Regions from separate parts of the Homo sapiens genome. Here regions 2, 3, 4, 5, 6 and 7 are each linked to region 1. The links come from fine-mapping of genetic effects on plasma protein levels. Region 1 holds a variant in brackets. A gene starts in each other region. All regions are shown on their reverse strands.

Region 1 (4,402 bases):
GAAGTGCTTAGAACAGTGCCTAGCACATTATAAATGCTATGTGCCTTTGCTGTTACTATTTCTACTACGACCACATTGGTGATGACAATGATGATGAATCCTATTACTAACAGTTTCCCATTCATTTCATATTAATTAAAAAAATATTTGCTCCAAATGCTTTTATCTGTGCCTACAAACAAACAAAAATCCAAAGGTGCAGATTTGCCACTAACGAAATAGTAAAGAGATGTATTGCAGGATCTAAGGCTGATTCTGAAAGTGTTGGTCCCCAAAGTGTTTGGAGTGGTGAAGTGATATTGGAGTAACTGTAAAACCTCTTAGATGGTTGCTCTGAAGTAAGCCCCTCTCTGTTGGATATATATTGCATGTTTTTTTTTTAATGTATCCATATATATTATGACTTGTTTCTCCAATGTAAATACACTTCTTGAAGACAGAAGCTGTGTTTTCCATTTCTGTGTATTTCCTATAGCATTCAACAGAGTGTTTTACAAATTTCAGAAGTTCAATAAATGTAATGATTAGCTGCTTAGGTAGAGGTGAGAGGAGGAGAATTAGGAATAAAATGTTCTCCAGTTAATTGCAAAGTGCTTTTGTACTTAAAAATGAATTTGCATTTTATCTTTTTCTACAACTTCTGGAAAGTGTTTTAGTTGGCATTTGTCATTTGATTTTGTACAATTTTGTAAATTTTCTGGAAATCTAAATTCCTACAAAGAGTCCATCACAGGATTTTCTATTTTTTAATTGTTTCTACATGAAAGGAAGTGTTAGTGTAAAGGCTAGCCTGTTCCATTTACACTTCATGCAATTTGTTAAGAAAATAATTAAGCTTTGGAGCTGGTAGAGACCATATTGTTACAGCCTAAACCCTCCACAGGGTACCTGGAACAGAATGGAAACTCAATAAGTTGTTGATAAATAAATGAATCATTTAGTACAATGTCTTCATTTCACAGTTGAAGGAACTCTGTGATAACTTGCTCCCTGTCACATGGTGGCATAGGAGGGGTTAGAACAAATGTTGCTGATGTCATTCATCATGCTCTAGTTGTGGATTTCACATTTAAATTGTAACATAAAAAAGACTTTAAGTTTAGTCTTTGAATAACTTCCTTCATTTTAAATCTTGTGTATAAATAAATTTCTTAGGTTAATATCTGCTACATTTTAGAAAGGCAGTAGGAAGAAGTTTATACAAGTCAAAAGAATTGTTTTAAAGGGAAAGTAAAGGAAAATATCTGTTAGTGGCTTATTCGAGGTGTGTCAGTTGATGAATTTCCTTTCTCTCAACCATAAGTTTTCTTTGCTCTGTTATATATTATTAGGGTTTCCTAGTTACTCTAAAAGACTTTCTGTTGGAACAATTTGTTTTTCTCAAGCACAACCCATCTCCAACTTGTCTGTATTTCTGAGACTTTCAAGAAATGTTGGTTATCATTTTAATTGATTTTCTGCTAGGATGGAAAAAAAGAGCCAAGTTCATGTACCTGTTTGAAGGGGCCCAAACTGTCAGAAATAGGGACGATTGCCTGGATGATAACGCTCTGCGATGCCCTCCACAATTTCATCGATGGCCTGGCGATTGGGGCTTCCTGCACCTTGTCTCTCCTTCAGGGACTCAGTACTTCCATAGCAATCCTATGTGAGGAGTTTCCCCACGAGTTAGGTAAGGAGCTCTGTTCATATTGTAAAAGTCTGCTTACTTCTTGATTTCAGTGGAATGAGACTTTTCAGGTGACATGCTCTTAAAATCCTTCTGATGCACTAAAATGAAGACCTTGTTGGACATTGATGATTATCTTTGATATCATCCAGAAATAAAAAAAAAACTATTCACTTGATATTTTCTTCTTCTTCTTCTAGGAGACTTTGTGATCCTACTCAATGCAGGGATGAGCACTCGACAAGCCTTGCTATTCAACTTCCTTTCTGCATGTTCCTGCTATGTTGGGCTAGCTTTTGGCATTTTGGTGGGCAACAATTTC[G/A]CTCCAAATATTATATTTGCACTTGCTGGAGGCATGTTCCTCTATATTTCTCTGGCAGATATGGTAAGAAGCTTAAAATTTGTATTTTCTTTTAATTTAAAATTTGGAAATGAGTATCTGGATTATAAGTTAACTAAGGGTGGCCTTCTGCTTTCCGCAGTGTGGAAGGCCTTTCTGTTGTAATTCAGAACAATCCCATTTCAACAGATCATTCTACTTGAGTAGTTTACACTAATAGTAATTTGAAACTGATCCTCACTGGTTCTTTAAAACATAATCGTATTGTTTGAAGGTGAAATGATTTGTTTTTGCTGAAATAGAGATATTTTCCTCTATCTCTATTCCCCTTGTGGTTGGTACATCTTGTCTTATGTTATAGTATGTCCCTATAGGACTTTTTCTCCTTTTTCTCCCTCTTTTGTGTCTATGCCACATTTGGAAGAGGAATAACTTATTAGAGTAAATAGCATTTTGTTATTTCAAAGTTCTAAACAGTGACAGCTTTTTGGGTTAAACTAAAACTGGTACACTAAAATTGGTAAAATTTTGACAATAGTTATTTGACATAGTATATATTTATATCTGTTCAATGTCTGTGTCTTTGTATCTGTGTGTATGTGTGTGTTTGTGCTCAAAAGAGCGTGCATGGCCGGGTGCGGTGGCTCATGCCTGTAATCCCAGCACTTTGGGAGGCCGAGGCGGGCGGATCACAAGGTCAAGAGATCTAGACCATCCTGGCCAACATGGTGAAACCCTGTCTCTACTGAAACTACAAAAATTAGCCGGGCGTGGTGGCGGGCGCCTGTAATCCCAGCTACTCGGGAGTCTGAGGCAGGAGAATTGCTTGAACCCGGGAGGCAGAGGTTGCTGTGAGCCGAGATTGTGCCACTGTACTCCAGCCTGACGACAGAACGAGACTCCATCTAAAAAAAAAAGAGTGTGCATGTGTGTGTGTAAGAGAGAGAATATCCTGTGCATTTTAAAATAAATCATGGAAATCTTTCTATAAAATGATAATATGGTAGTGTATGAAAATCAAGGACTATTTCTTTTGCATTTGGAACTGGATGTATTACATACATAATTTAATAATTTGAGTTTTTTATTTGCATTCTTACCTCCAAATTATATTTGTCTAGCTCTGTTCGTTGTTCTCTGCAGACCCTCAGAAGAGCAAGGATTTCATCTCTTAGAACCAATGCTACATTTATAACTTTTGTCACAAAATTAATGTCTCATGCTATCTTATAGTCATTTTACTTTCTGATATAAGAATGGAATCTTACTAGAGTTGTTCAGTTTAAAGAAATAATACTAAGAAATAATACTCATCCTGGAGTGAGCAAAATAGGCACAGTTCAAGGGGCTTTTCCATTCATGGGGCTTTTCCTCTAGAAAGAGGGGATCCTTAAATTAAACAACAAAAAATCACACAGATGACTAAATAATTACAAATAATAAAAAATGCTATGAAATAAGAGAGAAAGTAGAATATATGATGAGAGATGATAATAAAGGAATCTAGAATAAACTAGGATTAGCTAGCAAAAGTGTTTTAGCAAGATATAAGGTAAAACGTGAAGGATTTAGTCCACTGAAAAATTAGAGAAATACAAGTTCTGGTACAGGTGATGGTAGATGTGAAGATTTTGCTGGGTAAACTTGAGGTCATGAAAGAATGGGTTGGGTGAAGCATAGAGAGCAGGTAATGGAAAAGGAGAAAGAGAACATAAAATGAGGTAAATTCCATCCCACTGATTGATTCAGTTGGAGAAAAATACTACTTCAGTACTTTTACTCTTGTTGATGCCTGAAAGAACTAGATATTCCTATTAAGCTATCAGTACTAAAACCTTTAAACATCCAAAGTAAATGATCATACCACCCCTCCCAGCATTCTATTACAGGAGCACCTTGTTTTATTGCACATTGCTTTGATGCACTTTGTAAATGCTAGGTTTTTTGCACATTGAAAGTTTTTGGCAACCCTGCCTCAAGCAAATCTGTCAGTGCCATTTTTTGAATAGCATGGGCTTATTTCCTGTCTCTGTCACATTTTGTTAATTTTTAAACGATTTCAAACCTTTTCATTATTATTATAATATCTGTTATAGTGATTTGTGATCAGTGATCTATGATGTTACTATTATGTTTTGGGACGCCATGAACCACATTCGTATAAAATGGTGAACTTAATTGACAAATGTTGTGTGTGTTTTCTCCCTGCACCCCTGATCAGCCATCCTTCCATCTCCCTCTCCTTGGGCCTCCCTATTCCTTGACACCCAACAATGTTGAAATTACACCAATTAATAATCCTACAGTGGCCTCTAAGTGTTCAAGTGAAAGGAAGAGCTGCACATCTATCATATTAAATCAAAGGCCTGAAATGATTAGGCTTAGTGAGGAGG
Region 2 (4,000 bases), not on the chromosome of region 1:
GGAGCGCGCTCCGCGTCCACGCCCAGAGGGCGCTGCACACTCGCGCCCGAGGACTGCCTGCCCCCCTTCAGCCCCTCTCCCGGGCTGCGCCTCCGCACTCCGGGCCCGGGCAGAAGGGGGTGCGCCTCGGCCCCACCACCCAGGGAGCAGCCGAGCTGAAAGGCCGGGAACCGCGGCTTGCGGGGACCACAGCTCCCGAAAGCGACGTTCGGCCACCGGAGGAGCGGGAGCCAAGCAGGCAAGAACCTTAGGAGCGGGCCGGGGGTGGGGCGTTCCGAAGGGGCCGGGAGGGGTGGCTGGGGGGCGGGGTCCTGGGGGGTGTGGACTGGGGCTGGCCGGGAGACCTGGCGGAGCTGGGGGTGGGGGGCCAGTTTTTGCAACGGCTAAGGAAGGGCCTGTGGGTTTATTATAAGGCGGAGCTCGGCGGGAGAGGTGCGGGCCGAATCCGAGCCGAGCGGAGAGGAATCCGGCAGTAGAGAGCGGACTCCAGCCGGCGGACCCTGCAGCCCTCGCCTGGGACAGCGGCGCGCTGGGCAGGCGCCCAAGAGAGCATCGAGCAGCGGAACCCGCGAAGCCGGCCCGCAGCCGCGACCCGCGCAGCCTGCCGCTCTCCCGCCGCCGGTCCGGGCAGCATGAGGCGCGCGGCGCTCTGGCTCTGGCTGTGCGCGCTGGCGCTGAGCCTGCAGCCGGCCCTGCCGGTGAGTGCGGCCGGCGGCCAGGCGGGGAGGCGGCGGGAAGCCGGGACTGGTCACCCGCGGATGCCGGCGGGTGCACGTGGAGGGGGAGGGGGAGCGAAGACTTCCCTTCTTCCCGCGCTAGCCCAGCGGGTCCCGGGACGGTGAGCCCCGAGACCAGGGCTCCAGCCCCAATTTCCTCCGCTGTCGGTGGGTGCCGCACCGGTCCCGCGCTGGGGAGGGTGGGGGGCCGGGGCCCCGCGCTCAATTATGTAAAACGTCTCCACATCTGTCGGAGCCCGCCAGCCCACAGCGGCGCCCGGGGTCGCCCGTTCCCACCCTCCTCGCCCCGGCCACCGCGGCGGCCGGGCCCCCGTCGGTGACCCGGGGGGATGCAGTGACCGCGGCCACAACGCCCCCCCTGCAGACCCTAATTCAAACCAGACCCGCGGGCTTGCGCCCCAGCGCCGCCGAGCCCGGGCGCCCCGCCCCTTGCGCCAGGGCAAGTTTGGGCGCAGCGCGGCCGGCGCGGGAGCGGGAGGCGGCCGCGTTGGCCCGGGGAGCCGGGCCAGGGCTGCGTGGGGGGCGCGGGCGAGCGTCTGCAGGGCCCTCGGGCTTGCCGTGGGCGGCTCGAGGTGAGCTGAGCCGGCCCGGCAGCGGGAGGTTCCGGGAAGTTGGCCTCGGAACGCTGGAGACCCGGAGGAGCCCAACTTCTGGGCTGCTGAAGTTGAGCTGGCCCCGGAGGGCGCGTTCCCGTGCCGGGCACGGCCGAGGCGCAGGCGCCTTCCACGCGAGGGGACCCGGGAATGGCCTCCCGCTCCCCGGCTCGGCTTTGTGCTGAAGCCGCGCGGAGGGAAGGCGGGTCCCTTGGCCCGCCCAGTGCAGCTGGGAGAAAAGAGGGGCAGATGTGGAGCTCGGGGCTGTAAGAGGCCTTTGGGTGGGATGCAGCATCCACCTTCAGCGGGGCTGACGCTCCACTAAAGAGGGACGTGGCCGACAAAGAGCAGCCTGAGGGTCCCCAGAAAGTGGCTCTCCCGCCCCGGCCACCGGCCGCTAGCCCGCCTTCCCCAATGGGGGCGCTTTGTTCTCGGCCCCTGTAACCCTTTCCTGGGAACAGCCCCGTAACGCCGGCCTTGACGGGGGCTGGGACCTGGGCCGCAGCCAGGTGTCAGCGCGGGCCGCCCGGTGCCCGAGTCTGCCGCCCGAGTTCGCCTCCCCAGCCCCCGCGCCCGGTGCTGGCGTCCCGGGGTCCCTCCTGCGGGCCGGCTCGGCCATCCCCAGGGATGCAGAGGGGAGGTGCGGAGCCAGGGGCGCTTCCCCTTCCGGAAGTGGCGGTGTCTCGCCACTACATCTGGACAGTTCGACTTCCCCAGCTCTGGCAAAGGGAGGCACGTGGGCAGGGAAGGGGCGGGGGCGGGGTGGGCACTCGGGTTCTCCACTGCTAATGTGGCATCTGGACAAGTCTCAGCAGCGCTGACCCTCCGTAAGCGTTGCCTCGTGTAGTAGCTGCCAGTTATTGAGCGCTTTGGTTTTTTTTTTCTTTACAGAGTCTGTCTCATGGGAGATGAGGTAGGGACAGTCGTTTCTGAGACCGATGTGTAAAGCGCCCTCCCTGCTTCCCAGGTGACTCGTGCTTCCAGACATTTTCCGGTCCAGGAGAGGTCCCTGTGCCTATTGAACTGTGAATGGGCTGGACTGTGAGGGGTATCTGGGAGCACGGGGAGGGCCATGATTTCCGAGCTGGGTCTCATGCACTCCTGGCTTTCAGGTCCAAGAAGCTGCTCTCTAGGGTGGTGGTTTCTGTGGAACTGAGACTGTGCTTGGAGTCTTCGCTCCGAGTTTGGAGAAGAGAATGGAGCTGGGTGCCTTACCTCCCTGGACCGCTGGGCATCACCTCACTGCCCCATTCTCGCACATGATGGGGCCTCAGCAGGGGCGGCTGAAGTTGGGTCCTCCACCTATTTCCGGCTGGATTTAGGAGGGCTGCTGGTTCCCTTGCCTGCCTGGGGTAAAGCAGACATTCCAGAGCCCTGGGATCCCACCGCACCCGTTAATGCTGGGGAGGCAGGTGGAGTTTGGGCTTCCCCGTGAACTGCCTTTCCTGGAGTTTTCTGTGGGCTGGGGCAGATGCTGCAGTGTGAGGCATTATTTCTTGCCCAGAAACTTGGACATAGGGCCCAGGAGGCAGGAGAGTCTCAAAAGGGGAAAGGAGGGAGACTCCCTGGAGCTGCAGGGAGGGAAGGCTTCCTGGAGGAGGTGCTTGAGCTGAGCCTGAAAGCCCCACCTGAGCTTTGGGGTCAGACTCTGGCTTGAAGCTTAGGTGTTCTTTTTGCTTTTTCTGATCTTACAAAGATTAGTTTGTTTTCTCTTTCCCAGTTCTGCCCTCTTCCTCTTACAGTGAATGTCCATGTTAGGTTAAAGGTGGGGGCATGCACTGCCTTCCCAAAGCTCTGATACCCCTTTCCTAAAAGAAATCAGGCAGCTGGGATTTGCTTTAAGATGGGAGAAGGTATTTGCAAGTGGCAGAGATCTGACCCTCTCTGAAAGTTCACTCTGGCCCCAGTGGGAAGCAGGTCAGAAACCCCCTGGGGACCAGGGAAGCAAGGAGTGACTGAATGGGTGAGGGGAGGCTGCTAGGAGAGGAGGTTGCTCAAAACCACTCCCAAGAGACTAAAACAGGTTTGTCTAAAAAGGTTTCTCTCTCTCTTTCTCTCTGTGTGTGTGTGTGTGTGTGTGTTTACTGTGGTCTTTTGTTTCTGCCATGTAAGAAAAATGGCTTGTTCTGGAATAGTTATTTGCTATTTTTCATTCTTTCTCTCTTCTCTTTCTTGAAAGGCATAAAATCCCTTTTGCCCTAATTATGGGGGCTAGTAGAGACATTTTCCCACAGCCTGGCAGAGAGGGTATGGGGGGAGGCACTAGCTGCCTCCGCTCAGGCTCAGAGCCTTCTAGAAGTGATGTCATCCCTGGCTTCAGCTCTACAGGGAGGGTGGAGCGGTTTAAGTCTCTACCTGTGGCTCATGATGGGTTCCAGTAAAACCTCATTAACACACATTGGTAGGGAGACAGTAAGAAAGGAGAGAGCCTGGAAAGAATTAATGAAAAGCTTGACTTCTGCAGTTTTTTAGAGGAATCTTTTCTGTTGCAGCAGAATTTTGGATTCCTGAAATCCCTTGGGAATGAGGTGTCCTGTGTATTCATATTTTTTCATCAAGCTAAGAATCCCTATTACCCTCGAGTATTCTTACTCTGGGCATGACTCTCTGAAGTATTTATTTCCCTTCCTTTATCAACCAAAAAATGCTAGGCATGATTTAATCTCTGCC
Region 3 (4,402 bases), not on the chromosome of region 1:
GTAGGAGCCAAGGCCTCGGCCCAGCCGCCCGCGGGCACTGCCAGTTCGGCTGCAAACACACCTGATAGGGCGGCTCTGACGGCGGCGACGGAGGCGGCTCCCAGGACTAAGCTCGCGGCCTAGCCTTACGGTGGCGGCGGCCACACCCCTGACTGGGCTGGGGCCCTCCGCGCCGCCCCGTGACTGCAGCCCTGCTTGCCGGCCAGGCCGCGGGGCCGAGAGGCGGGGCAAAGACCTGACTCGGGAAGCCGGGGCGGGCGCCGGGTTCGGGCTGGGGGCCACCTCCGGAACGCCTGGGGGGTTCTCACTCGCCCTCCAAGGGCGACCTCAGGGCCACAGATCGGCCGGAAGGCTTCTCAGCTTCTGGGCTGTGGCTCCTGTTAGAAAATTGAGTGTCGCCCTGGGTCCCGAGCCCCTAGGCCTGACTCCTTCGTGCAGGGGCGTCGCCTTCAGACTGGGTGGTGCGCAGGCCAGGGCCGCGTGCTTTTCAGAAGCGCAGCCTCAGGCGAGGCGGGCGGCAGGGGCCTGAGAAGGCTCATGGCTTGGCAGAAGGGTCCTGTGCTTCAGTGGGTGCCCGTGCAGGTGGAGAAGGACGGGGCTGCGAAGCTGAAAGGAAAACGTGAAAGGTTTTTGTGTGTCTCTGAGCCTGAGTAAAGGCCATGCTTTCTGAGCTGTCAAACGCCTCCCAAAGGGAAGAGATTATTAAACCGTTTTCCCACCCTGCCAGGTGTAGGATTGTTAGGCGGTGATGATGGAAGGCAGAGATGACCCGAACTGAGAGATCAGAAAAAGCGTTTTCTCTTTCGTTTGTGCCTGAATTATATGAGGGTGCCCAAGAAGAAAGGAGACTCATCTGATTACCCGGTGTGGCTTATCTCAACAAGTCACACGCATTCTGGTCACAGAGTATGTGCTCAGTGTTTTCAATGCTTTATGTTTTGATAAGTGCAAATTCCTTTGTTTAACGAAACTCTTATCAAATACAAACAGTTATCTTTGTGAAACACTGAGCAGTTCCAGTCTCTCCTCTTAACTAAAAAAACCAAACAGAACTTTTAATTAGAAAAGAAAAGAAAGAATAAGCACATGCCTACTGGGAAAAAAAAAATACCATAAAATGTGCAAAGTCCACTCACCTTCGGTTAACAGTCCCTCTAAACCTTACTAGTCCTGTTGCCCACTGAAACAAGTGTGAACTCTGAGGCATTGGAGGGTCCACATAAACATGGCCCTGGCCCACCTTTCCCGAATCATCTCTCGGATGCCATATCTAACCCCACTGAATTACTTTTTTCTCAAACTATCAAGGGTAAAAGACAAGTTTTTATTATTTCCAATCTGACATGGACCATTATTTCTGTAAAATACAAATCAAAACCTGCTAGCAAATAAGAAAAGAGACAAAAACTACAAGCCCAGTTTTTATTACAAGTGTACAATGAGTATGCCAAAAAGTATAAAATTAGTTTTTCAATTATTGGTTGTTGTTGTTGTTTTTATTTCTAAATGCTTACTCACAATTTCTATACTTACCTGTTCATGGAGCAGTAAAAAGCTGTTCACTGACTGGCGGTGGTTGGATTACCGTTTAAGTGGCACTGACTTGCTGTTCTTTAATTATGTCAAATGCTTTTCAACTTCTGGGCCTTTTCTCATGTTTAATGTGAACGAAGTTCTTTCCCACTCAAGTTTCAACTCGTAATAACAATAAAAGCTTCACATTTATTGAGTGCCTTGTGCTAAGATTTTTGATGCATTAACTGTGAATTCTTATTTGTCCTATGAGCTACCTATTATTATCATTATTATTTCCCCCCACTGTACAGATAAGGAGATGGAGGATTAGAGAGGTCAAGTCACAAAACCAGTGAGGTACAAAGTCAGCATTAAACTGAGCTGGCCTGATTCTGGAGCCCAAGCAATCAACCAACATGCTGGGCCCCTCTCTGTGAAACCTCCCCCATTTGCTTTCAAGTTGAAATTAATCACTCTTGCTTACACCTCTACTCTAACATTTTTTCCCGTTGGTTTTCATTCATGTCAGCTTCCCACGCTAGGCTTTAAGCTTCTGAGTACAGTGAATTTGTCTGCTCACACTAATCACAGGAAGCAGAGCTCATTCGCATCTTTGCATTACCACTATCTTTTATGCTTACTTCATGATATGTTTTAATTATTTATTCTTGTCAGCATCCTCTACTAAACCATACAATGTTCAGAGTTATCTTACCAAAGATGCTTTTATTTATTTAATTGAATAAGCATTTCTATAGCATGTATAATGAGCCAGGTACTATTCCAAGAATTTTAAAACCTCGCAAATAGACCTATAGATATTATTTTATCCCTCTTTAAACTGTGAGGAAACTAAGGCATAGAGAGGTTGCAGTAAGTTGCAGGACCAGAATTCCAAACCAAGCAACCTGCCTGGCTCCAGAATCTATTTCTGAGCCACCATGCTATGTTGATTTTCCACAATACCATGTGTTCTTCCTACTTAGAACACTTCACTGCAGGGAGATCAATCCATAATGGCCAATTAGAAGCCCCTGCCCGCAGCACTCAGGGAGGAATGAGAAGGGGCAAGTGAATTCAGTACCTTCAACTGAAATATCCAGGTTCTCTCATTGGGACTGACTAGGCAAACCACCGGCCCATGGAGAATGAAGAAAAGTTGGGCAGGGTGGGGAGCCCACCTCGGAGCAGCACAGAGCCAAAGGAACCTCCACCCTCAGCCAAGGGAAGTGGTGAGTGATTGTGCAACCCAGGAAACCATGCTTCTCCCATGAATCTTTGCAACCTGTGGATCAAGAGACCCCCTCATGACTCCACACCACCAGGGCCTTGAGTCTGATACACAGAGCTGTGTGTTGTCTTGACAGAGCAGCCACTCAGGCACATACAAAGAGGCCCAGAAGTTTTACATACTCTGGCCACAATCATCAGCAAGGCAGGAAATCCATCTGTAGGAAGGGGGCTGAATCCAGGGAGCCAAGCAATACCATTCTTCAGGCCCCACTTACATGACACCCCACAAGTTAAGACCCACCAGCTTGGAATCCCAGCCAGCCAATGGCAGTGGATAGGAGTCTGCCTGAGACAGGTTTGAGTTCCCAGCAGGTGGGGCAGCTGCCGTCTCTGTGATTCAGCCGACTCAGCTGCTGCAGCCTCCTGGATGTGGAGAATACAGACGGTCTAAACTAGGAAGGGTTCCCTCTGCTACAATGCAGCACACCTGCCCTACCAAAAAGCAGCCAGACTGCTTCTGTAAGCGGGACCCCAAGTCATTCCTCCTCGCTAGAGAGGACCTCCTTAAGCCCCTCCAGCAACTGTTTTATGAACAGAGCTCTGATCTCTCCCTGGGACAGAGCTCCTGGAGGGAGGGGAGGCCATCATCTCTGCAGTTCAGTAGACTCAGCCATTCAAGCCTGCCAGCTGTGGATAATACAGATGGACCATACAAGGAAGGGTCCCCCACAATGTAGCACAGCTGCCTTGCCAAATTGCAGCCAGACTGCTTCTTTAAGTGGGACCCCAATCCATTCCTCCTCATGGGTGGGTCCTCCCTGCAGGAGCTTCAGTCACTCCAGCCAGGGCGCTATGGAGAGAGCTCTGATATCTCCCTGGGACAGGTTGCCTTGGAGAGGGACAACCACCATCTTTATGGTTCAGTGGACTCAGCTGATCCAGCCTACCAGCTGTGGAGAATACAGGTGGTCCAGACTATGAGGGCCCCACCCACCCCCACTCCCAGTACAGCACACCTGCTCTACAAAAAGCAGCCAGACTACTTCTTTGGGTGGGTCCCTAATCCCGTTCCTCCTGACTGGGTGAAACCTCCCAATGGGGGTCTCTAACCACCTGCTGCAGGTGTATGAGGGCTGGCAACAGATCAGAAACCACCCAAGATGAAGCTTCCAGAGGAAGAAGCTGGCTGCCATCTTTGCTGTTTTGTGGCCTTCACTAGTGATACCTCCAGATACAGGAAAAAGTGAGGCAACTGGGGTCTGGAGCGGATCTCCAGCAAACTGCAGCAGTCAAGTGGCCTGACTGTTAAGAGAAAAACAAACAAAACAACAACAACACCATCAACAAAAAAGACCCCACAAAAACCTCATTCAAAGTCAACAACCTCAAAGATTAAAGGTAGATAAGCCCACAAAGATGAGAAAGAATCAACGCAAAAATGCTGAAAACCCAAAAAGCCAGAGTGCGTTTTCTCCTGCAAATGACCACAACCCCTCCCCAGCAAGGGCACAGAACTGGACTGAGGCTGAGATGGCTGAACTGACAGAAGTATGCTTCAGAAGGTGGGTAACAACGAACTTTCCTGAGCTAAAGAAGCATGTTGTAACCCAATGCAAAGAAGCTAAGAAACATAATAAAACAATACTGGAGCTGA
Region 4 (4,402 bases), not on the chromosome of region 1:
TCGTGGCATTTCTAAGGCCATCTCCCGCAATGCTTCCATACAGCCAGTATAGGGAAAGGGTGAGTGGCAAGATTACAGAGACTTTCCTAAAGCCATCAGCAAGATAGGAATCCCTCGAATAATAAATCAAGAATTGCTTTTTCCCAGCCACCCCTAAGTAGACTGTAGTAGTCAAGACTTGGCAATTGTTGGATAAAGATGGAGATTACTACTGAACCAGTTCCTTCCTGTTTCTTCCTAACTAGACACTCAGAGTTAGCCACTCAGTGACACTGTGATATGGACTAGCCATTTGAATATTCTATGGCTGAGATTCCTTCCTCTGTAAAACGGGTCCAACATCACCTACCTGTGAGGGTCAGAGAAGCTAATGTATGCAGAACCCTGAGTAGAAGCCTGGGGCAGAGTGAGCTGTGGTGACAGTTCATACATCTAACCAGGGGTTCCGGGCTCCATCCTCCCCCAGGGAGCGAGGTGGGAGGATCTGCGGCCTGAGGACAATTGAGTGGGGAAGGAGGTGAGCTGGTTTCATCTAGGGTACCATGTTTTTTAAAGAAGGCTATTTTCCAATCCAAATAGTCTGTGGGCATCAGGCTTCACTGGTGGTGACAAAAGAGAGAGAAAGGAAAGAAGGGACACCCAGTGCCGCCTGCCATTGGGTACTGAGAACCACACTTTAAAACAAAAAACAAAAAAAACTATATAAAGGCAAGATGACACTTCAGAAGACCCCACATTTAAACTTTGTCCTTGGGACCCAAACAGTATAGAGTAGTAAGACAATGACCACCAGTGAGACAGGGACCCCAGGCATTTGGCAGTGTACATGGTTTCTTTTGTCCAGGGCAGGATTACAAACAGGAGTGTGAGGATGAAATCATGCAGCAAAAAACACTGTCAGGGTCAAGGCAGACGTGATGTCTTAGCACTGACGTCCCATCACAGAATTGTGGAACCATTTCTGCAAAGCTGAAGGAGAACTAGTCCCATGCAACTTTTCCCAACTCACAGACATGTCTCCTGAGGACCAGAAAGGTTGCTGGCCTGCAGAGGCACACAGCTGGTGTGCCTGCAGAGGCCCACAGCGGAGAACAATCATTAGCTGTGCTCCGTTTCTCCCTTCCATTAAGGAGTGCTGGGGTGAGACGCAAATTTTAAGCTTCTACCCATAGGCCAGGTAAACAAAGGGCGGCCTCCCGCCCGCCCCGTTCCTGCCTCGGCCATCCCTTGCAGCACAGCTGAGGGCTTGAAGGAGGATCCATGACTCACACTTTTCTTGCCGCGGAGAATTAACTCCAAGATAACATTACCCATGTGGGAAAAAAAAGCAAGCCATCAAGGAAGAAAGTTCACTTCGCGCCCCTCTCCACCGAGCCTCCTTACCTTCCTCATTTAAAATCCACGGCAGAGAGGCCAACACGGAGTCAAAGCCGCAAGTGCTCTCTTCAAAGGCACAGGACCCAGCGGGCAGGTCGAGGGCACCGGCGAGCTGCAGGGCTGCGGGCACAAAGCGAGTTTCAGTTCGAGCTCCACCCAGGAGCCTTTGCACCAACTCGGGGAGCCCCAGGGGGACTACCTGGTGAAAGTGGGGGAAAGACGAGCGGGAGGGGGCGGGAGAGGGATGCAGTACCTGTCCCCCAGCATCCCCGGGCGCCTCCACTGAGCGACCCCACGCCCACCCCCACCCCCACCCCAGGCTTGGCCAGGGGAGGGAGTTAGCGGCTGCGGAGGATCAGGAGGCGCCCTCGGATGGCCCAGCCCAGCACGGTGAGCCGGACCCCCGGGGGCAGCAGGAGCGGGGGCGAGTCGTCAGAGCGCCCCCGGGGTTGTCCCGGGGTCCAGGCCTTACCTTGCAACGCCAGGAGGACGCCCCTTAACAGCATGGTCGCGTTTCAGGGAGGATGACTAGGAAGGGGTGCAAGTTGCCAGCCCGCTGGGACTGGCTGCTCCTAGTGAAAGGGATCGTGGGAGGCGGGGGCGCCGGGGACCCAAGGAGGGAGAAGTCGAGAGGCAAAGCTTGCGCTCTGAGCTGCCCAACTTTGCAGAGCGGCTCCCGGAGCCGAGCGGTATGCTGGAAGGTGCTCGAATGGAGAGCGCCAGCGCCCCGGCGCTGAGCAGCAGCCTCAGGTCAGACCGCGGCCCAGCTGGTCCTGGGCGACGATGGGGCTGGACAGGGAGGAGACAACTGCACACTTTGAAAGGCCAGCCACGACTGGCTGGGAGAGGAGAGGTCGGCCCGCAGTGCCTTCGCTCAGGATTTTAAAGCTTGGGACCAGAGCCCTTGCAGACACTTGGAAGGGGCAGGCCTTCCAGGAGTCCCTCCGCTGGGTTGGGACCCGAGGCTCCCGCCCCGCCCAGCCGCGGTGGGAACTCGCTTATTTCTGGGGACAGCTTCCCTGCATCTGGCATGTCAGTCCCGCAGGGCTGGCCCTAATTTTAACTTCTTCTCCCCAGAATGAAAGAGGGTGGAATTCTCCAAGGACAGCCTGGAGGAAAATTTGGAAACGGTTGGGTGGAATAAGCTTTATATCTAAGGAGTTTCAGCGTTTACGGTCCAGCAATGCTAACCCTGGAATACCACCCCCACTTTTTTTAGCCGGTGGAATGTCTGGCATGCCTGGTGCTCAGCATTCCCTCCGTCCGGTGAAATGGGGGCATTCCTTCTCTCCAAAGAGCCATGATAGATTGATTAATGGGAGGCTTTACACTGGGAGGGGGTTGTTGGGGAGGGAGTTACTTCTGAGGAAGCTGTTTGCTTTGGGCACTAAGTGGGTCTCCAACAATATTCTTTTCTTGTAAAGAGTTCTTCTTCCTCCCCTCCTCTTCCTCCTCCTCCTCCTCCTTTCTCCCATTTATAATTTTGTGCAGGCAATTTTGTGAGGAGGGCAGTGGTTTTAAAACCTGAGGGTGCATCAGAATCTGCTGAAGGGCCTCACCCTCCGTTTCCGATCCAGTAGCTCTGGAGTGGGCCTGAGAGGCTGCACGTCCCTAATAAGTTTCCAGAGGCTGCTGCTGCCGCAGCGGGTTTGGAACAATACTTTGAGGACCACTGGCCTAACAAACTCCAGTTGAGCCATCAGTTCAACCTGCTCCCATGCCTTCACCTGGCTTCCAGACCGCTGGGTTTCCTGGTCTTTCATTGGCCGCCGCTTCTCGGCCTCTTTGCGTTACCTCTGTAACCCCTTAACATGAGAGTGCCTCCAAGTTCTTCCCTGTCACTCCTGTTTCTTTCTCTATCCAGCCCCTCAATGCTGTCCTCAAGTCTCATAGTTTTAGATACCAATGATAGCCTGATAACTCCCACATTTATATTTCTAACCCAGACTACTCACTAACGCCAGACTCTTCGATCTCATTGCCACCTCAACATTTCCAATCGGATGCTTCAGAGCTATTTCATACTTAACAGGTCCCAACATGAAGGCTGCATATTTCTTGCCAAACCTGCCCGTCCCCTGTGTCTTCCTCATCTCAGTAAAAGAACTATTTTCCTCCAGTTGTTCAGGAGAGAAAACTTGGAGGCATCTTCAGCTCATCCGTTCCTGTCAGACATTGCCAATTTCTATCAGCTCAGGATTCAAAACACAGCAGATGCTGACCATGCTCTGTGCCCATGGTGGTGATGCCTTGGTTGGTCCAAGCTGCCCTTGCCATCAACCTGGGATACCGCAGTGGCCTCCTGACCACGGTCTCCCTTCATTTTCTGCCCTGCCCACCCTACTCTATTCTGAACACACTAGTCAGGGTTATCCTTTTAATACAGAAATTGGGCCATGTCACTCCTTAGCTCAAGACCCAACAAGTTCCCAAGTCATTTAGTAAAGTCCAAAGTCTTCACGATGACCAACCAGGCCCTATAGGACCTGCTCCACCCTTTTCTTTCTTTTCTTGCTTTCCTTCTTTTTCTTTTTTTGAGACAGAATCCCACCCTGTCACCAGGCTGGAGTGCGATCTCTGTTCACTGCAAAGTCCACCTCCCAGGTTCAAGCAATTCTCCTGCCTCAGCCTCCCAAGTAGCTGGGATTACAGGCGTGTGACACCACGCCCAGCTAATTTTTGTATTTTTAGTAGAGACAGGGTTTCACCATGTTGGCCAGGATGGTTTCAATCTCTTGACATCATGATCCACCTGCCTCGGACTCCCGAAGTGCTGCGATTACAGGCGTGAGCCACTGCACCCAGCCCCACCCTCTTATTTCTCTGACTTCAATCACCCTGCTTACTCTTCTCTAGCCACACAGACCTCTTGGCTGATCCTCAAACACAGTCCAGCTATCCTTTCAGAATTTTGCACTGGCTGTTCTTTCTGCTCAAAATGCTCTTCCACAAAGAGCCACACAACTCACCGCCTAATGAGGTCTTCACTCAGATGTCACTTTCAGTATTAGAAAATTAGTAACCT
Region 5 (4,402 bases), not on the chromosome of region 1:
GCACTGCAGGCCGACCGGAGGCTTCTAGCTCGCGCCGGGTGCGTGGGCCCTCCCTGGCCGCCTGTGCCACCCCGCTGCGCGAGGCGCGGAGCCCGACCACGCCCGCGCGGACGGTCCCGGGGTGAGGAATCTCCAGTGGGGATTGAGGGTAGAGGGCGGCCGCCAGCGAGCTGCCCTCCGCGGATGGCGCCCAGCCTCCCCACGCTGGTGCCCCTCGCAAGGAGAGGTGGCCGGGAAAGGCAACGGACTGAGGAAAGCCGGCTCACTGGCCGCGTCGCCACCGCGTCCCTGAGTGCTCAGAACTTACCGAGCGAGCGCGCCGCCCAGATCTTTTCCCGGAGGCGCCCGCAGCATCTGCGACTCGGGGAGGCAAAGGAGCCGGCACCGCCTCGGACTGGCGCAGCCCAGGAGCGAGAGCACCGCGGGGAGCGCGGGCGGCGCCCCCAGGGCAGGCAGATCCCCACCGAGCAGCTAGCCAACGGGCAACGCTTCTTGCAGGAAGGAGGGAGGGAGGCGAGAGGGAGGAGGGAAGTAAAGCGGGAGGGAGGAGAGGGGAAGAAGGGAGGGAGGAGGGAGGAGGGAGGGAGGAGGGAGGAGGGAGTGAGGAGGGAGGAGGGAGGGAGGAGGGAGGGAGGGATCGCGTCCCCCCTCTCCCTCACTTATCAATCACCCCACAGATCAAATATCCGGGCTGTGCACCCAGGACGGGGATGTAAGAGCCCACAAAGGAGCCGCTGCTCCATTTCTCTGACAAGCGCTGCGGAGCACTGCTCACGCCTCTCGGTCCCTCTTGCCTGGAACTCTGCCCAGCCCTTGCGGCTTCCACCCTGGGCTGCAGCTCGGGCTCGGTCAAGTGAAATAAGAATGGCACACGGTCGGTACCATGTCCAAGGGGAGACTAAGACTACTGGGTGGAAGTTAACGACAAGTGAAAGAGCAGTCAGCCATCCGAGCTGGACACCCTCCGGGACAGCTGCCTCCCCTAACTAGTAAGCGCCCAGTCTTTGGGAGTTCGCAGGCAGATATTTAAGAACCTCCTACGAGGATCGTAAACAAGGACTTTCAACATAAGATAGAGCTGAACTTGAGTTGTGCAAGTGTGTTAACAAAGCAAGCCCTTAGCAGCGTTCCAGTGCCCATTTTGATTCCCTTTATTCTTCACGACGACGTTGCCTGGATCTTCTAGAGCGTGATTTTTGCCATCCTCCCTTCCCTTTTCTCCTTTCTTCTTCCTCTTATTAGTAGTCCAGGTGGTTGTGATTCTATTAAAGGAAGGCGCTCTGTGAAAAGAGTCAGTGTAGTTCAAGAGGGAGGTGCGGTTTTTGCCAAGAGCATTGCGTTTCCCCTCAAGACTTGCTTTCTCTAGGGCCTCTCCTCTACTCTTCCAGAGTATTCGAGATAAAGTTGCAGTTTGATAAATTTATGCCAGGAGTAGGGAGTTCATTTGATGACACTAAGTCATTTTCCCCTCCATCCTGTAGGAGAACGTCATTAATTCAAGTCGTTGCCACCCCCTATCCTTTTCATGCCCGCTAGAGTCTGCAAAACCCCAAATCCTTCTTACTGTCGAAAAGCGTGATGGTGGAGAGCAGACGGGGAGGCGAGGAGAGAGGTGCAAAATTAGACGCAAAATTACCTCTCCAGCTAGTGGATCTGCATTGGAATTTGTCTGTTTCCATATTTCCCATGCCTTTCAACTCGTTCTCACAGCACTGACAACCACCTTTTTCTTGTCCTTCCCGTGGGAATCTTTTGTGCTTCTCCTGTCCTCTCTTCTTGGCTTTCTTTCATAATGGTTTTCTAAGGAGATTATGCTGGGCTTTTTAAAAAGAAAACTACTGGCAATCTTATATTATGAAGATGTACAGAGTTTGCTTTAATAATAGTCGGAAGAATTATAATCGTATCTTCGGAGTTGTAAGGGTCATTACTGTTCCTTTTATTTCATTCTTGAGAAAGCCTTTTTGAAATCTTCCTACCATTCAGATAAGCAACTTCGGAATAACATAGTTCTCACATAAGCACGTGGGCAGTGTATGTACGGTTATATATCCAGAAGCATTGCTCTTCTTTTTACAATATCTGTATTAGTGTAAACATCCAATGTGCTGTTTGCTACAGACTAAAAGCAGTGCACTGAGCACATCATATTATTAACTAAATGAGGTCAGTTAATACTGTTACTTCTGTCTTTACCGTATTTCTGACTGTGTCATCTTTTCATGTCGCTTTTAGTAGATGTTATAAACAACTGCAAAACACAGAGCTAAGAGGCCATTCCAATACAGAAATAATGAGACAGTCATGCTGAAAAACTCAGACAGTTTACTAAGAAGGGTGATGTGTCTGTAGCCAAAGGGAACATACAAAATAAGCAAAAACTTCTATACAGAGTAGAGAAGGAACATGGCATTAATGATGAAAAGTGATACTTTATTTAGATCCAGTAGTAACATGTAATAGATGGCATGCATCAATTTTAATTAGCCTTGTAAGCAAGTCTAACCTGTTCACCAGCCTTCGAAAAGCATTTAGCAGCCTGCCTTTCCACATGGGACCACACTGATAGTAAGACAAAATTAAAAAGAGCAGACTTTTCTTTTTGTCAGCATAAAATTTTCAAGTAGGTGGATAGCTGTGCTTTGAATGCACAGACACGAAAATTGATGAGCAATATAAAACTTTCTGAGAGGGTTTTGCATAGACAGTTATAATGGAGGAGAGTTTGAAGTCTGTGAAAAATTTAAATATGCCAATTTATTTGAAAGCTGCTTTATGCTGAATTTTCTAAAAGCTTCTGTGTTAGAGGAAAATTTCCAAATAGAATTGAATACTAGAGACACCATATTAATGTACTTCTGTTCATTAATAAAAATCACATTATTCTTCTTTATACTAGCACTGTAAATGTATCTTTATATCCATGTGCTGTTTTCTTTTTGAAAAACTTTTATTTTAGGTTCAGGTGTACGTGTGCAAGTTTGTTATATAGGTAAATTGCATGTGGTGGGGGTTTGGTTTACTGTAAGCTACTTTCTATTGTGAAGTTCGTGTTACTAAACAACATAGAGATCCCGATTGGAAAACTAGTGGAAAAACAGAGAAATAAAACTAAATCTTGCCTGGGTTTTTATAATTTCATTCTAAGGTTAGAAGAAAACCAGAAATTTCACCTGCGATGAGTGAGATAAAAAGCGCATATGTTTCCAGGATGATGTAAAGGATGTCCTATTACTGTGTAGTACGTAATTTACCTGAGAATGTTGCTTTTTCAACTTCTTCACACCTATCCAGAACTAGAAAGCTTTAAAACATATAAAAGAAGACAAAATGTGCTGCATTTTCAGTGAACATAGTTTCTTTCCAACCAAAGGTTTCAAAGAAGAGTGCCACAGAACAAATTCCTAAATAAAGAAACGCAACAAAGCGGACATGCCCTTAATATTAGTAATTATAGTTTACAGGATATTGTAGACTTTTGTTCCTGATGTTATTGAAAAGGTGGATATTTTTCAATTCAATTCAATTATTTGGATTATTTGGCAGGCATTTTGGCCTGATTGAAATAGTGCTGGGCCAAGACCCAGGGCAGTTTTTCTTTTAATCAAATACATATCCAAGCCCTTGGAGCCCAATGACCTGGGTTCAAATTCCACCCGTGCTACTTTCTCACAATGGGACAAAAACAGCATTACACCAATTTCAGTTCCCCATGTGTAAAACTGGCACCTGCTATGTGGAGTCAGTAAGGATGGGATGTATACAGAACTCTTGAAAATTGAACGGTGGTACATGTATGTGCAAATAAATCTTAAACTAAAAAAATTTTTAACTCACTTCTTAAAATAAATAAGTTATACAAAATATTTTATATCTGTTTTCTATGTTTCTCATGACAATCCTCAACAGGCCAGTATGATTAGCCAGACTTTACAAAAGAGGAAAGTGAGACTCAGAAAATTTAAGTAACTTACCCTTACTCCCATTCTTGGTGAAATGGTTGATTTTAGTCAGAAACCAACATCTTAATTTAAGTTGGATAACAGAATTAGCATTAGAAAAAATATTTATGATTCTAGTTGGAGCCATGTAATGTCAAACATTTAAAATAACTTCAAAAAAATTCCATCTTTCATTTTACAGATGTTTTCAAATAGTTACATATATGTATACATCAGGGCTCAAACTCAACACTGTTGATATATTTGGTCAAATGATTATTTGTTGTGGGGGCTGCCCTATGCAATGTAGAAGGATTAGCAGCGTCACTGGCTTTTGTGTGTGTGTGTAATGTGCATATGTATACTATATATACATACGTGTAATTATATAAATGTAATAAGTAATATAACAATATATAATGAAATATTATTCTATTGTAGTCGATTTTTTAAATGCTTGG
Region 6 (4,402 bases), not on the chromosome of region 1:
ATGTTGGCCAGGCTTGGTGGCTCACGCCTGCAATCCCAGCACTTTGGGAGGCCAAGGTGAGTGGATCACCTGAGGTTGGGAGTTTGAGACCAGCCTGACCAACATGGAGAAAGCCCATCTCTACTAAAAATACAAAATTAACCAGGCATGGTGGTACATGCCTGTAATCTCAGCTACTCGGGAGGCTGAGGCAGGAGAATCACTTGAACCTGGGAGGCGTAGGTTGCAGTGAGCCAAGATCGCGCCACTGCACTCCAGCCTGGGCAACAAGAGCAAAACTCCATCTCAAAAAATAAATAAATAAATAAATAAATAAATAAATAAATAAAAGTAAAAATGCTTTGTGAATAGTCATTGGTGGATCCCTTCTTCCTAATAATGAGAAGCTCTGGTCCTTTTTCCCTGAGTCAGCAACAAGGCAGGGACAACCACTACCACTATGTCCGCTGGGCCTCACTCCGGCTGTACCAGCCAATGAGTCAATGGGAGAAAGAGAAACAGATATTAGACAGGAACTGAAACCTTCCCATGCACACCGACCCTATGAAACAGAAGAACACCCAAGAGAATCGCAGGAGCACCTGTTATGGGAGGATGACCCGTTTCCAAGTCAAGACACCAAAAGTAATAACCTTCCCACAGACAAGTAGTTAGCAAATATAATTGCAGAAAACCTCCGATCTGTAAGGAAAGCAACCACAAAGACGTACAATACCCTAGGACTAGGCCTGAGGAGTCTGCACAGGAGCTGTCTGAGGAGAGCGGTGGACGTGACTGAAGGCACAGCAGGTGACTCTGCGGGAGGAATCCCTGCGCTTGGACAGGGAAGACTCAACTCCACGCTTCTCCCTAAAGAAGATCTCAGCGCTTCTCTGCCCGATCTTTTCCCTCCTCGCCCTCCCCACCACCTTTTCTGTCCCCTCTGTCCCATATCCCCTTCTTGGAGAGGACTGACCCCTGGTTCTCAGGCCCATGCAGGGGCTAACCCCAGCCAAGGCTGCCTCGGGACTTCCCCCTGCTCAGGCCCCAGCCGCTGGGCTGCCCTGGTTAAATCTCCGCATTCCAGAGACTATCGATCTGCTCCCCACCCCGACCCTATCTCCCTCACCGCCCCACCCCCTCCTCCGTACCCTGCACCTAGTGAGGCCGGCATCTCCCCCACCCTCCCCACACCCCCCTCCTCCATACCCTGCACCCAGTGAGCCCGGCATCTCCCCCACCCTCACCACATGCCCCTCGCAGTCAGTGGCTGCCACTCTCCACCCACCCTGACACATCCTGCCTCTCGTCCCCCTTCCTGTAAGAATTCAACTGAAAACCTAAAAGGTCCCTTTTCTGCACCCACCCCTTATCACTTGCCCCGCTGTGGTTCAGCCAAGGTACGTGGGTGCAGAGCCGGGAGAGGCCCTGGCTCCTTCCTCTCCCAGGGGTGTGGACCTTCATCTGTCCATCTTATGTGGTAGACAGAGCGCACCGCATTCTGCGTTCTGCACGGAGTCCAGACTCGGGGCGTCTCGTGTGATACCTGCCCTGCGGCCCTGCCCCTCGCACCCTCCCTCCCTGCCGCAGACTTTCCCGGGAAGGGAAACTCTCACCTGGGACCCAGAGAAGCAACAGAGCCCAAGGCAGCCACATGGTCCCTTCCCCAGCACAGGCGGCACTTGCAGCAGCTCCAGGCCCTACCTGGACCCGAGGGGAAAGTCACGCCTCCAAGGCCCCGACTTCTGCTTTTCTTGGTGCCGCGCTGCTTCCTTGTTCAGCTTCTTTTGGTTCTATTCCTGGAGCCGGTCAGAAAATGCAGGAAGCTGGTGAGCCCCGACTAAGACTCCCTAGAAACGGCACGTCCTCCTTAACGCTGGTTGAGGCTGCAGGTTCTTCGGCTATTTCTAGTGATGAGACCTCTCCCTGTAGTGACTCCGTAGCTTGCAGGACTGATCCCCGACTCTCACTTCCCCGGGTCTCCTCCTAGTGGAAGGCCCAATAACTCCTCCCTCCTTTCCTTGTGGTCAAGGTGGGCAACCCTGGGGGTGGGACCCGCTGAGCTGGCTCCTCTCACCCTCGGTGGTGCCCACGAGGAGGCTGCCAGGGGGAACTCCCCTTTCCTGAGTCCCTTCCCTGAGTCCCTTGGAGGTCCAGGCCTGGGCTTCGGGGCTGAGGGAAGGGGAGTTGTCATCGTGACTCCAGAGTCCCTGAATGGTTCCTAGTCTTGGAAATGTGTCCTCAACTTGACACAGAGGTCCTCCGGCCATGCCTTCCTTTCTATATAGCCCCATTGGAGCCAACTCGGGGCTGGGCACAGAGCAGGGACTCAGCGAGCCTGCAAGGACCCCTTTCCTGATCCACACAGAGTGCAGACTCTAAACACACACACGCTCACACTCACATACACACTCACACCCACACACACTCACCCACACACATTCACAAACACACACTCACATACACACACTCACACTCACCCACACACATTCACAAACACACACTCACATACACACTCACACAAACACACTCACCCACACACATTCACAAACACACTCACATACACACTCACACAAACACTCACCCACACACATTCACAAACACACACAAACACACTCAGCCACACACATTCACAAACACACAAACACACCCACACATTCACAAACACACTCGCATACACACAAACACACATTCACACACCCACACACATTCACAAACACACACTCACATACACACTCACATGCACACATATTCACACACACCCACACATTCACACTCACACATACACACAAACACATTCACAAACAAACACGTTCATGCACATACACTCACATATACACACTCACACACACATTCACAAACACTTTCACAAACACATACACACACGTACACACAAACACATACACACATTCACAAACACGTTCATGCACATACACACACACACACAAACATTCACACACCCACACACAAACACACACAAACACACTCACACTCTCACATACACACACACTCACCCAAACACACTCACATACACACACATTCACACACACCCACACACATACACTCACACAAACACATTCACACACCCACACACATTCACAAACACACACATACGCACACATTCACAAACACACGTTCATGCACACACACATATACACACACACAAACACACAGGCACTCTCACCCACACACATTCACAAACTCACATTCACACACAAACACAAATTCACACACACTGATACAAACACACATACACATTCACACATTGAAACACTCAAATTCACACAACGCACTTACATATACAACTGAAATACACTCACACATTCACACACAAACTCACACACTGACACATTCACACACAGTGACATACACTCACACACACACAGTCTCACACACGTGCCTTGAGTAGGTGCCCCAGCTTGCACAGAATGACCAGGTGGGCACAGGAAATGCCACTCCTAATGTGTAATGCGTCACCTGGGAGCTTGCAGTCCCCAAGCTCAGAGTGTCCACCCACATGGAGCCCTGTGCCAGCTATGGGATCCCAAGAATATCCTTCCCTCTGGCCCTTTTTGGAATTTGTCACTTTCCTCTTCCTTCTGAACACAGGGGCGCCTTGCCCACGAAGGTGTCAGGAAGCCAAGGAGACCTATGGGCTCTGCTGCTGGAAGATTCAATGACAAAGCCTGGTGGACATTGTGGAAATTTTCATGATGATGCAGTCATAGATTAACTAAACCTCATTAAGATCCAAGACACTTCGGGCCGGGCGCGGTGGCTCACTCCTGTAATCCCAGCACTTTGGGAGGCCGAGGCAGGCGGATCACGAGGTCAGGAGTTCGAGACCAGCCGGGCCAACGTGGCAAAACCCTGTCTCTACTAAAAATAAAAAAAATGTGGCGGGCACCTGCAATCCCAGCTACTCGGGAGGCTGAGGCAGGAGAATCGCTTGAACTCGAGAGGCAAAGGTTGCGGTGAGCCAAGATCGTGCCATTGCACCCCAGCCTGGGTGACAAGAGCAAGACTCCGTCTCAAAAAAAAAAAGATCCAAGACACTTTGGATCATGACACTGTTGAGCTGAACATAAAAATGCAGGAGATGTGTCATATTCGGTGGCTTATGTGGCCTGATCATTGCAAAGTTTCTCAAAAATTATTTTTTGATTCAACCATGACCAAAAAGGCGCTGCTGCAATCTTGAACGTCCAGGCCAGACAGAGAAGCAGAAGGCTAAGTTCTGGCGTGGCTTGTCCACTTACCACCGAATGAACTTGAGCAAAGCCTGTGGCTTCTGTAAAACGTCAATAATGACAGCTCCTCTGTGGGAATAAATATTATTATGATTATACAAATACTGAAATGTCAGTGTTCCTTAACATCCTCAGGTCAGTTTTTTCTGAGGGAATATATCTCTACTTTTGAT
Region 7 (4,402 bases), not on the chromosome of region 1:
AAACACGTTCCATTCCGTGATAAGGGTACTTTGGCGACTTTTCAAAGGAGTAATGAGAACAAAGGATTTAGGCATATTCCGTAGTGATGTGCACTTAGGGATGTGAACTCACTAACGGGTTGCCCCCTCCCTACCTAGCTTCTTCCTGTCTGCGGTTCCTCTGTAAGATGTCCACGAGCACCAGACTCTCGCGCTCAGAGCCAGTAGCCCACGCTCTGCACTAGTCTTGCCTGTCCTGATCTTCCTGGGGTGCGCGCACTCCTTCAGCGTGTCCTGGTTTTAAAAGACTAACCCATCCGGATGGGCCTGAACTCAAGAAGCAACTATTCTAAGCTAGACTGAGCCTTGGCGTCTCCGCAGCCTGGGAAGCTCGGATAGAGGTAAGGAACGGAATGGGAGGTTTCTTTTGTCCCTTGAGAAATCCATATTCAACATTCTTAACCAGACGAAAGCCGCTGCCTGCTCAGTCCTGGGGAAGTGGGAAGGGCCCTCTGAAAGCTCCTAGACGCTAGATCTTCCAGCGGGCTAACTGCCAAAGAGGGGCGCCTGGGCGCAAGCGGAGGGAACTTTTGAGCCAACCAAGTGCAGACGCCCCTTCTTAGCCCTCTCCAGATGAACTTGCTCTTTGGCCTAGAGAGAAGGCCACGCCTCTAAAGAAGGAAATAAGGATGGTAAAGGGGGGAGAATAAAGGGAAAGGGAATGACCACACAGATTCTGGGGTGCAGCGCGTACGGAGGATGGCTGGGTAGGATTGCAAACCTCCGACACTCCCCCCAGTTGACAGGCCCTATTTTTGCCAATTTCCTACATCTCACCCCACCTCACCTCACCCCAGTCTCCCCGCATCTACTACTAGCTCTTTGAAGAAGGCGGCTGCAAGCCAGTCTCCGAACCCCAGGGGACTTTTGGGCAAGGGAGCCGGTGGAAGCAGAAGGAAGAAGATGCGCTGAGAGTCCTCACAACTGCGTCTCCGGAGGCAGAACGAAGTGGGGACTTCAGACAATCAAGCGTCATCCTTGCTCCCCCCTCCCCACACGGAACCCTGCGATTATGGCAAGAGAAAACTGGTTTGAGCTTGAGAAAATTTCCCCAGATTGTCTCCACTGCTCTATTTCCCTCAGATAATTGTTCGCCCAGCCCTTGGGAGCAAAGACAGGCGGAGGAGAATACTCCTGGAGTTCTCCTGGGTAGTCAGGAAGGCACAGGAGGAGATCGCGGGATCCCAGGGTTCTCCCGCAGCTCTCTGCCCTCGCCGCACCGCGCCCTCCCGGGCCCCGGCCGCGCCCGCCAGCCGGAAGCGCTCCCTCTGCGGGTGCGACTCCCGCAGCTACCCCTTCCCAGCCTGGCGGGGGTCGGCGAGAGTGGTTTCCACAGCACCTTACAAGTTCGGGAACTCGGGGCACGCGGGCCCGCCCTGCTGCGGGTTTCGACTCCCTGGGACGGAAAGCCGGTTACTAGCAGCAAGAGGGTGCGCCTACTCGGCCGCGCCCCTCACTCCTGCGCCCCTGAGGCCGGGTCCCCTGAGAAGGGGCACTCAACGGGGACATCTTCAAGCCCGTGAGTCCCTATTTTCACCCTGTCACTCCGAGCAGGGCAAAGAGATCCCAGGAACCGGTCCACGCTACCGCCGTTCCCCAGACCAGCGCAAAGCTCGGCTCCAGGTCTCCCCACGCCGCCGTGGTCTGTGGGCACCCCCATTTCCCGGATCCCTCTAACCGCCACAGTCATGCTTACCTGTCCTGGCAGTGCACACACAGAACCACACAACTAAAATCAAATCCATCGGCATCGCTCTCGAGGGTCCCCGCCTAGCAGGGGGCACCGAAGCTAGGTGGAAGCAAATGAGCCTGGATCCTGAGGCGCGCCTGGCTTGGAGCCGCCAAACTTGCTAGCGGGCGGCGGGGGAGGTGGCTCGGCAGCGCCGGGTGCTGCGCTCGCATATGCGCCCGGGAAGGCAGCCCCGGCCGCCCCGCCCCCAGCCCGCCCCCCACCGCTGGCGCGGCGGCGGCGGCGTGGGGCTCGGGGCCCGGCCCCCCGCTGCGGCTGCGTTCGTCTGGGAGCCCGGGCAGGAGCGCGGGGTTTGGCTACTGTGGCTTGTTGCGCTCCCCACTGGGGGCCGATTCCGTTCGCCTCCTTCGCCCGCAGAACTGCGAGGATCTGGACTGCAGGCGCCGCAGCCGCTATCACCCGGAGCACCGAAGTCGGAGTCCCAGGACCTGCGGCCGAAACGAGAGAGCGGGAGGCGCACGGCGCCCCCACGGCTTCACGCGCTCCAGCCCCTCCGAGCCGCAGTCGCCAATGTTGCCCTCTTTACTTCCGCACCGCGGTGGGGGCTGCCGAAGTTGCCACAGTTCATCCCCGCCGAGTCGAAAAGCCGCCGAGCCCTCGCGGGTGGGTATTTTTCCTCGGGGGAACCCAGACCGAGGCGGCGCCACCGAGCGCGCACGGACCCCCTCGGAAAACAATTACTCGGGATTCGCTCTGTCAACTGGGTGGGGAGGGACCTGAGGGGGATGATGGCTGAGTCCCTGCTCACCGCCTGTACCTTCTGTCTCCTCTCTCCTGTTGAACCCCTATGACTGAGTACTCTCTTTGTGGGTGCAGGAAGAGGGCGCTGAGGTGGGGGTGCAGAAAAGGGGTCCTCGAGGCGGAGCGAGCTGTGGTTGGGGTTTGGGAAGTCTATTTGCAAACCTTCTCATTCTGCAGGGCAGATGCTGCCACATAGGGGTAATTCCTAACCATCTTTTTTTCTTTCTTGCGTGATTTTCTTAATGGTATTATCAAAAGCCCACTCTTCTTTCATAGTCACATTTTGGCCCCATGTGCAATTCCTCCGGGACCTCCACCTTCTTTTCCCTCTCCCACCACAACATTCTCTGGAGAGAAAAGCTGGGCTGGGCTTTGTTTTCTACTTGCCGGCAAGAAGAGAATGGGTCCTCTCCCCTCTATGCGACCCTTTCAGGACCTGACCTTCCCTATGAAGATCCCCCAAATTTAAGACTTCTGTCCCACTTCCTATTTGTCCTACTAACACCTAGGAACGTTATTTATAACTGGATATGTAGAGTCATGAAATCTGAAATGACAGCCTCTGATTTATACCAAATGAACTCCACTTAGCTTGCTCAGTCTTCCCACTCTCTCTGAAGCCCCCGCTCCCCCTCACCAGCAGTACTCCTTTGATATTCACAACAGGGATCCCAGAGGAGTCCAAGGAAACCTCAGAACAGCCGTCCCTCGTTTCCTGGAAACCAATTCCAACGTTTCAGAATCCTCTTCACTAATAAGAACGTGCCCTTCTCACTTGCACCCACTTTCACTTCCTATATCCTTAACCCCTACACAACTTTGACCCCAGGAGCCCCAGTGAAGTTCACCAAATCAGCGCAGCTTATTAAGAGAGAAGGCTTTACTAGCATGCTGTTCTGGTCTCTGCCCTATTTTTCTGGATATTTCTGTGTGCAAGCCACTGTCCCATTTGGCCCTTTATGTTGTGGTCCTTTGGCAGATGAAAAAGAAAGTGAACAAGCAGGTAAATTCCAGCTCAAGAAGTCTACTGCACAATCCAGAAGTTGAGCTGAATGATTAAGAGGTAAACTGATGTCAGCTGACTCCAACTCAGATTCGGCTAAGACCCAAAGGAAATCTGTCTGCCTTGACTCTGTATTTTCACTAACAGAGTCCACGTGTTTTTCCTTCCACCCGGAGCGTGTTGCATTTAAAGCTAACATTAAAATCACACATCTTGAAGAGAATAGGATTTCCCAAGTCTTGTTGGGCCTTGTGGACAAGGACACCATACACCATGTTGTATTATAAGAGCCATTTCCTGTCTCTCCTCTGCAGTCTTTAAGTACACCTCAGCAGGAACAGCCTTGAGTTGCTTTGGACTGTTGTTTCCAAGGCCCTTTTATTGATTTCAGAAAGCCCAGAATCCTTAAAAGTACAGTGACCCCAGCAAGGGGAAAAGGTGGTCTGGGTAAGATCTTCAGAGCTCTCTATCTTTAAAGTCTCTGTGTAATTAGCTGGTCCTGTGGGATGGGACTTTTAGCTTGTTCCATTAAAAAATAAAGCAAGACATATGTTCTGTCATAGCTTTGCAGCATAACATCCATTAACAGTAACAAGAGTTAATCTCAACAAGGTCATAAATCTTTTCTAGATAACTAAGTACTGCAATCTCCTCCTATAAGTGCAACCCTTGAGTGGGGATTTTGAGTGTGTAGGTCTGTTAAGCTAAGGTGACCTTCATAGAATGGGCCCAGCAAGTTTCTCTAGTGACAATGAAGGGACACATGGCTATGTATGTACTTGGTGGTGGAATGTTACAGTGAGACCTGTGTTCGGTGGAAGCCACACTGAAACATCTTACCTGATGCCAGATCCCAAGTCCACCCTCCC

Alleles and levels. Alleles are on the strand shown, and positions count from the first base shown. The strength of an association depends on the size of the effect and on how common the allele is.
With allele G in place of A in region 1, the plasma level of the protein whose gene starts at base 370 in region 2 is lower (moderate association).
For the plasma level of the protein whose gene starts at base 222 in region 3, G is the high allele of the variant in region 1 and A is the other (moderate association).
For the plasma level of the protein whose gene starts at base 2,233 in region 4, A is the high allele of the variant in region 1 and G is the other (moderate association).
With allele G in place of A in region 1, the plasma level of the protein whose gene starts at base 505 in region 5 is lower (moderate association).
As copies of A replace G in region 1, the plasma level of the protein whose gene starts at base 1,705 in region 6 goes up (moderate association).
For the plasma level of the protein whose gene starts at base 1,928 in region 7, allele G in region 1 goes with a lower level than allele A (moderate association).

The links. PIP is the posterior inclusion probability: the model's chance that the variant is causal. Protein levels are from antibody-based Olink assays in UK Biobank. Linkage for the fine-mapping came from a reference panel and not from the study's own genotypes, which makes the PIPs less certain.
Region 2: it holds the start of SDC1, and the variant in region 1 is fine-mapped to the plasma level of the SDC1 protein (UK Biobank, PIP above 0.99).
Region 3: CPQ starts here. The variant in region 1 is fine-mapped to the plasma level of the CPQ protein (UK Biobank, PIP above 0.99).
Region 4: it holds the start of MAMDC2, and the variant in region 1 is fine-mapped to the plasma level of the MAMDC2 protein (UK Biobank, PIP above 0.99).
Region 5: it holds the start of SLITRK2, and the variant in region 1 is fine-mapped to the plasma level of the SLITRK2 protein (UK Biobank, PIP above 0.99).
Region 6: it holds the start of CD300A, and the variant in region 1 is fine-mapped to the plasma level of the CD300A protein (UK Biobank, PIP above 0.99).
Region 7: it holds the start of NELL1, and the variant in region 1 is fine-mapped to the plasma level of the NELL1 protein (UK Biobank, PIP above 0.99).

The regions. Positions count from the first base shown.
Region 1 is chr4:102,265,142-102,269,543 of GRCh38, reverse strand. It overlaps SLC39A8 (solute carrier family 39 member 8), which reads left to right. Exons shown (of 9, transcript NM_001135146.2): 7 at 1,465-1,672; 8 at 1,870-2,054. Among named protein-coding and RNA genes, the nearest start is that of SLC39A8, 78 kb to the left of the region's middle. RefSeq lists an enhancer at 915-2,114. The variant G/A (reference allele first, on the strand shown) is at 1,992.
Region 2 is chr2:20,221,500-20,225,499 of GRCh38, reverse strand. SDC1 (syndecan 1) reads left to right here and starts at 370. Exons shown (of 5, transcript NM_002997.5): 1 at 370-698. The coding sequence starts at 633. RefSeq lists silencers at 1-333, 394-813, 854-913, 934-1,393, 1,804-2,003 and enhancers at 1-402, 2,162-2,668, 2,669-3,176.
Region 3 is chr8:96,641,062-96,645,463 of GRCh38, reverse strand. CPQ (carboxypeptidase Q) reads right to left here and starts at 222. Exons shown (of 8, transcript NM_016134.4): 1 at 62-222. RefSeq lists a silencer at 1-347.
Region 4 is chr9:70,041,679-70,046,080 of GRCh38, reverse strand. MAMDC2 (MAM domain containing 2) reads right to left here and starts at 2,233. Exons shown (of 14, transcript NM_153267.5): 1 at 1,850-2,233; 2 at 1,384-1,497. The coding sequence starts at 1,883. It overlaps LOC124902179 (a long non-coding RNA gene), which reads left to right and starts at 2,040. Exons shown (of 2, transcript XR_007061571.1): 1 at 2,040-2,127. RefSeq lists a silencer at 1,954-2,248.
Region 5 is chrX:145,813,932-145,818,333 of GRCh38, reverse strand. SLITRK2 (SLIT and NTRK like family member 2) reads right to left here and starts at 505. Exons shown (of 5, transcript NM_032539.5): 1 at 308-505.
Region 6 is chr17:74,463,937-74,468,338 of GRCh38, reverse strand. CD300A (CD300a molecule) reads right to left here and starts at 1,705. Exons shown (of 7, transcript NM_007261.4): 1 at 1,596-1,705. The coding sequence starts at 1,635. LOC124904056 (a long non-coding RNA gene) reads left to right here and starts at 565. Exons shown (of 2, transcript XR_007065899.1): 1 at 565-789; 2 at 3,589-4,331. RefSeq lists an enhancer at 564-693 and silencers at 1,054-1,113, 1,154-1,213.
Region 7 is chr11:20,667,112-20,671,513 of GRCh38, reverse strand. NELL1 (neural EGFL like 1) reads right to left here and starts at 1,928. Exons shown (of 20, transcript NM_006157.5): 1 at 1,736-1,928. The coding sequence starts at 1,790.